2 separate regions of the Homo sapiens genome follow, and region 1 is linked to region 2. Evidence: fine-mapped expression QTL. A gene starts in region 2. The other region holds a variant in brackets. All regions are shown on one strand. Distances are between the middles of the regions. Region 1 overlaps ZNF624 (zinc finger protein 624). Region 2 holds the start of ZNF624 (zinc finger protein 624).

What was found. PIP is the estimated chance that this variant, and not a neighbour inherited with it, causes the effect.
Region 1: its variant is the best candidate, but not a certain one, in a credible set for the expression of ZNF624 in monocytes after Pam3CSK4 (Quach 2016, PIP 0.51).

The regions. Positions count from the first base shown.
Region 1 is chr17:16,627,784-16,630,697 of GRCh38, forward strand. The region is part of intron 5 of ZNF624 (zinc finger protein 624); the gene reads right to left. Among named protein-coding and RNA genes, the nearest start is that of ZNF624, 25 kb to the right of the region's middle. The variant CAAA/C (reference allele first, on the strand shown) is at 1,414.
Region 2 is chr17:16,652,260-16,655,173 of GRCh38, forward strand. It overlaps ZNF624 (zinc finger protein 624), which reads right to left and starts at 1,591. Exons shown (of 6, transcript NM_020787.4): 1 at 1,505-1,591. LOC124903934 (a long non-coding RNA gene) reads left to right here and starts at 1,633. Exons shown (of 4, transcript XR_007065639.1): 1 at 1,633-1,711; 2 at 1,825-2,914. RefSeq lists an enhancer at 835-1,345 and a silencer at 1,301-1,500.

The sequences.
Region 1 (2,914 bases), 24 kb before region 2:
CACCTCATTTAAATTTCTCATTGAATTAAAGTGAATGAAGATTGTTATAGTCCCTAGCCTAGCAGTCTGGCAAAAGCAAACATTAATCCTCTGTGGGAAAGATTACATAATCTAGAACCTCCTAATATTACTATAGATTTTCATAGTCAATGCCTGATACCCAGTAAAAAATAACAGGCATAAAAGGAGACCACGCTGGGCATAGTGGCTCACATCTTGTAATCCCAGCACTTTGAAAGGCCAACAAGGGCAGATCACCTGAGGCCAGGAGTTCGAGACCAGACTGGGCAACATGGCAAAACCCCATCTCTACTAAAAAATACAAAAAAATTGGCCAGGCATGGTGGTGCATGCCTGTAGTCCCAGCTACTCAGGAGGCTGAAGCAGGAGAATCACTTGAACTTGGGAGGTGGAGGTTGCAGTGAACTGAGATTGCGCCACTGCACTCCAGCCTGGGTAAAAGAGCGAGACTCTGTCTGCCTCCCCCGACCCCAAAAAAAAGGGAGACAAAAATCAAAAGTCACATGGGAAAAAAATCAAGAGAGAAAACAAATATACAGAAACAGATCTAAAATGAATCCAAATAATTGAGGCCTCAGACATAAACTTTAAAATAACTAGGATAACTATATTCAAGAACATAAGATTAACAATCTCACAAAGATTTGTAAAGTATAAAATAACCAAATGAAAATTCTAGAACTGAAAAATAAATATAGTAACTTAACTCAAACTATGGGCTAAGAGCACAATAGAGACAGCACATGAGAGAGTTAGGGAAATGGAAGATAGGTCAGTACAAAGTATCCATACTGAAACACAAAATGATGAAAAACTTGCAAACGTTAGAAAAGCAGAAGAGACATCCAGGATAGGGTGAAAAGGTCTATCACAGATGTAACCAGAGTCCTAGAAGGTTACAAAGAGAAGTGAGAGAGAATGGACAGAAGCTAAGTCAAAGAAATAATGTCTTAGAATTTTCCACAAGAGATAAAAAAAAAAAATCAAGTCACAAGTCTTAGAAGCCAAATGAATCTTCAGCATGAGAAATATGAAGAAAACTATATTAAAGTACACAGTAGTAAAACCGTTGAAAACTAAACTCTTAAAAGCAGCCAAAAAAAGAGAGACAGGGAAGGGCACAGTGGCTCACACCTGTAATCCCAGCACTTTGGGAAGCCAAGATGGGCAGATCCCCTGAGGTCAGAGTTCGAGACCAGCCTGGCCAATGTGGCGAGACCCCATCTCTACTAAAAATACAAAAATTAGCTGAGCGTGGTGGCAGGTGCCTGTAGTCGCAGCTACTCAGGAGGCTGAGGCAGGAGAATTACCTGAAACCAGGAGGCAGAGGTTGCAGTGAGCCGAGATCACGTCACTGCACTCCAGCCTGGGCGACAGAGCGAGACTCCATCT[CAAA/C]AAAAAAAAAAAAAAAAAAAAAATCTGTCTCTCTCTCTTTTTTTTTTTAAACAGTGTCTTGCTCTGTCACCCAGGCTGGAGTGCAGTGGATTGGATTACAAGTCTGTGCCACAACGCCCGGCTAATTTTTGTATTTTTAGTAGAGATGGGGTTTTGCCATGTTTCCCATGCTGGTCTTGAACGCCTGACCCCAAATGATCCACCCACCTCAGCCTCCCAACACCTGGCCAAAGACAGATAGATGTCCTTTAATGAGCAACAATTAGATCAGAGGTTACAAATTATAACCAATTTGGCCCATCATCTGTTTCTGTATAGCCAGCAAGATAAGAATGATTTTTATATTTATTTTTATTTATTTATTTACTTACTTACTTACTTATTTTGAGACCGAGTCTCACTCTGTTACCCAGGCTGGAGTGCAGTGGGCAATCTCAGCTCATTGCAACCTCCGCCTCCTGGGTTCAAGTGATTCTTGTGCCTCTGCCTTCCGAGTAGCTGGGATTACAGGCCAGTGCCACCATGCCTAGCTAAAATTTGTATTTTTAGTAGAGACGGGGTTTCACCATGTTGCCCAGGCTGGTCTCAAACTCCTGGCCTCCAGTGCCTGCCTTGGCCTACCAAAGTGCTGGGATTACAAGCATGAGTCACCACGCCTGGCCAATTTTTACATTTAAAATGGTTGAAAAATATATTAAAAGAATGTGAGACATTAAAAATGTATGAAATTCAAATTTCAGAGTCCATAAGTGAAGTTTTAGTGGAGCACAACCACATTACTTGGTTAATATGTTGCCTATGGATTCCTTGGTGCTACAATGGCAGAGTGGAGTAGTCACAGCAGAGAGTCCTTATGATCCAACAAAGCCAAAAATATTGCTGCCCTGCCTTTTATAGAAAAGTTTAGACAGATGGTTCACTTCTCCACAGATTGTACATAAGACAGAAAACAATAAATGATACCTTTGAAATGTTGAAAGAATATAACTGCCAATCTAAAATTTCAAACTTACCAAAAATATCCTCCCAAAATGAAGGCCAAATGAAGATATTTTTAGAAAAAAAAAAGAGAAGAGGCTGTGCGTGGTGGCTATTGCTTGTAATCCCAGCGCTTTGGGAGGCCGAGGTGGGTGGATCACCTGAGATCAAGAGATCCAGACCAACCTAGCCAACATGGTGAAACCCCATCTCTACTGAAAATACAAAAATTAGCTGGGCATGGTGGTGCATGCCTGTAATCCCAGCTACTGAAGAGGCTGAGCGAGTAGAATCGCTTGAACCTGGGAGGCAGAGTTTGCAGTGAGCCGAGATCACGCCATTGCACTCCAGCCTGGGCGACGAGAGTGAAACTCAGTCTCAAAAAAATAAAAAATTAACAATATACTACCTTAAAAATAAAGACAAAAAGTACAAGAATACACAGAAAGTGAAAGTTAGCAGATGAAAAAAGATATACTATACAAATAACAACCAAAAGAAAGATGCTGTAGTAATATTA
Region 2 (2,914 bases):
CCAAGCCCATACACTGACCCCCAAGTTTTACAAGGTTGCAAAGAAAAAAAATGAGCCAAGAATATTGCCCCATCCCGCAACCCCCGAACACTAAAGCAGACCTACAAAGAGCAACATAAGGCATTTTCAATTCCGAAGGTCTAGAGTAATGGTTTTCTGCATCTTTAACATTTATCAAGAGTGAGCTGAGTCATCATTTTTAAAATATTTGTAAATATTAATAAACTCTTTGGCAATACTTTATGTAGATTATGTAGATTATGCTCGTAACATATGTTTAACAACCAAACTACAATAAATCCCTTGTTTTATTTTATAATTAGAATAAACAATATTTAACATTTAATATATTCAGCTTGATCTCAATTGTGCAAATGTAATGCATAGAAAAAAAGACTGAGTAACCCAAAACTCTACTGAGACCTCTGAGACCTGGGGCTGTGATGTTTACCCTTCTTTCTGCTTTTCTGTACTCTCCAAGCAGACAAGAAGAAGTATCTACCTATACATAGGAGTGTGGAATAGGAATAAAATCCCAGAGTGGCTGGCCACATCCCCAGGTTCTAACCCTGCTTTGGCTACCGTAAAACTGTGACCACAGGCAAGTCACTTGAGCACAACGAATCAGCTATTAGTACATGACAGTAGCCACCTTATATGTTTCTACTGTCCCCTTTGTCATTATGCAGAAGATATCTAGGCCACTATTCCCCAGTTATAATTTCCCTATTTACAAGCTCTGTCTTTCCAACTATTGCAAACGTATCCAGAGACTTAAGGAGAAACTTTACTTGTTTTGCTTCCTTGGCCAGTGCAGTTATTTAGAAATAATGAAGGGTCCATGTTTTTGCTGAGAATCTCAGCGCCATGTACCAGTCCAGCATTTCCCAACCAATGCAATAATACCATTGTCATGTCAGGGAGTGACAAGTGATTAAAAGGTGATTACAGTATTTGAAATGTGACATTTCAGGAAAAGCTGCCTCGGTTACTGAGTAGCGCAGGTCCCCCGATGTGGAACCTAGTTCCATCCCTGCCAGTTCAGAAGCCAGAGCGGATATGCTCCTGCCAACCTCGCCTTCTTTCCCTAACTGCTCTCCTCTACCCACTTCGGGTATGCCCTCCTCAGGGCCTGCAAGGCGCGGGGCTGGGAAGACCGGGAAAGTCGGGTCAGGGGCCCGCCCGCCCTACTCGACTCCCTGCGCCCTGCGCCCGGCTCTTTTTAACCCCAGCGCCGCCAGGCCCGCAGGGAGGGGGTTCCCGGGTTTGGACCCGGACTAGGAGGCCGCATAGGGCACGCGGCCCTACCTGTGAGGGAGGCCAGCTGGAGACTGAACCCACACTCGGGAAGGAGGCCCAGCCCCAATCGCCTCTCAGGAGTGGGCGGGTCCGCTCAGGGACAGGGGCTCTAGAGGGAACGGCCACGCCCCGGACGCCGCCGGGAGCCAAGCGCCAAGGGAGGGGCGGCGGGCAACCGAGGCCAGGCGCCCGGGACAACGAGTACCTGGCGGCCGAACTGAGGACAACTGAGGGAACTCGCAGAGCAGGGCGGGAACGCTTCCAGCAATGGCGGCGGCTCGGCGGTGCCGGCCTCCAGGCAGGGCATTGCGCCTGCGCAGCCGGAGCGTCGGAACTACAGTGCCCAGAATCCTCAGCGCCTGAGCCCCCCGCCCCTTTTGTCTGCGTTAGTGAAGGAATTGGCTCTTCGAGGGTGAGAAAAAATTCCAATTGGATACACTTCTGTTGAGAAGCCTTGACTATGTGTCAAAAGCAATAGCACTAGAGATACAAATAATGACACAACCCTTGTCTTGGAACATTTAGGTGCGACTAAAGAAAGCCGTCGAGAGAACAGATAGATGTGATCCAGACAAATATGTGAACAAGTGCTTGGAAACACATATTTCTGAACAATTCCCTTTATGACAATTCCCTCAGAGTTGGAAGAGACAACAATTGATGACTATAATGCCAATTAAGTAGAATGGATATGAATGTCTGAAAATAAGCTGGAAATTTTAAGGCCAAAATTCTTCGAAATACAAAGAAAAAACCTTTCTGAAGACAAATAGCTGTAGAAGTTCTCCTCAATGCATACAAATGATAATTCTTAAAACACAATGACTGAAAGTATTTATTTGCAACAAATTTATTTGACCACTTATTCAAGGGCTGCTCGTCCAAGAGCTATATTAAGGTCTATTTACTTTATCCCTACCAAAGGCGGTATTTTTTGAGGATAGAAACTACATCTCATGGAGTTTATCACTCAGAGTGCCTACTTAGGAGACTGCTTGCATACTGAATGAAACGAAGGAAGAATGAATGAATAATTTGGGACCCCACCTCCCAACACACTTCCACATATCGAAATGCACACGGAATGAGGTACATCTTCTAAGGAGAGTGGCATTGAAGAGTAATCAAAACAACAGGATATTCACAGGAGGACTGGAATAAAACGAAATTTCCAGTGAAAAAGATTACTCAAAATATTTATTCAATACACTCTGAAATTAGAAACTAAGCAAATGTCTTTTGGAGATCCCAGTTCCCTCACATTCCCCACAGATGAAGATGAGCCAAACAGAAGTCCAAAACTTAAACATTACAAAACAAATAATAAAATAAGACACTGTGACTGAAAATCAGCACAAACAATAAACGGCAGAAATATATCCCCCAAAACTTCAGAGGCAGAGCTCATTTGATTAAAAATTTAAAATTATTACATTTAAAATGTTTAAGGACATGATAGATGGAATTAAAAACATTATCAACAAACAACAGAATGTAAAATAAGCCACCAGGAAAGTTTAGAGAAACATACACATTTCGTTAAACTATTAAAAAAAAATGTTTAACACAATATTTAGGGTAGATTATTACTTCTACAGGGATAAAGTCCAGGAAA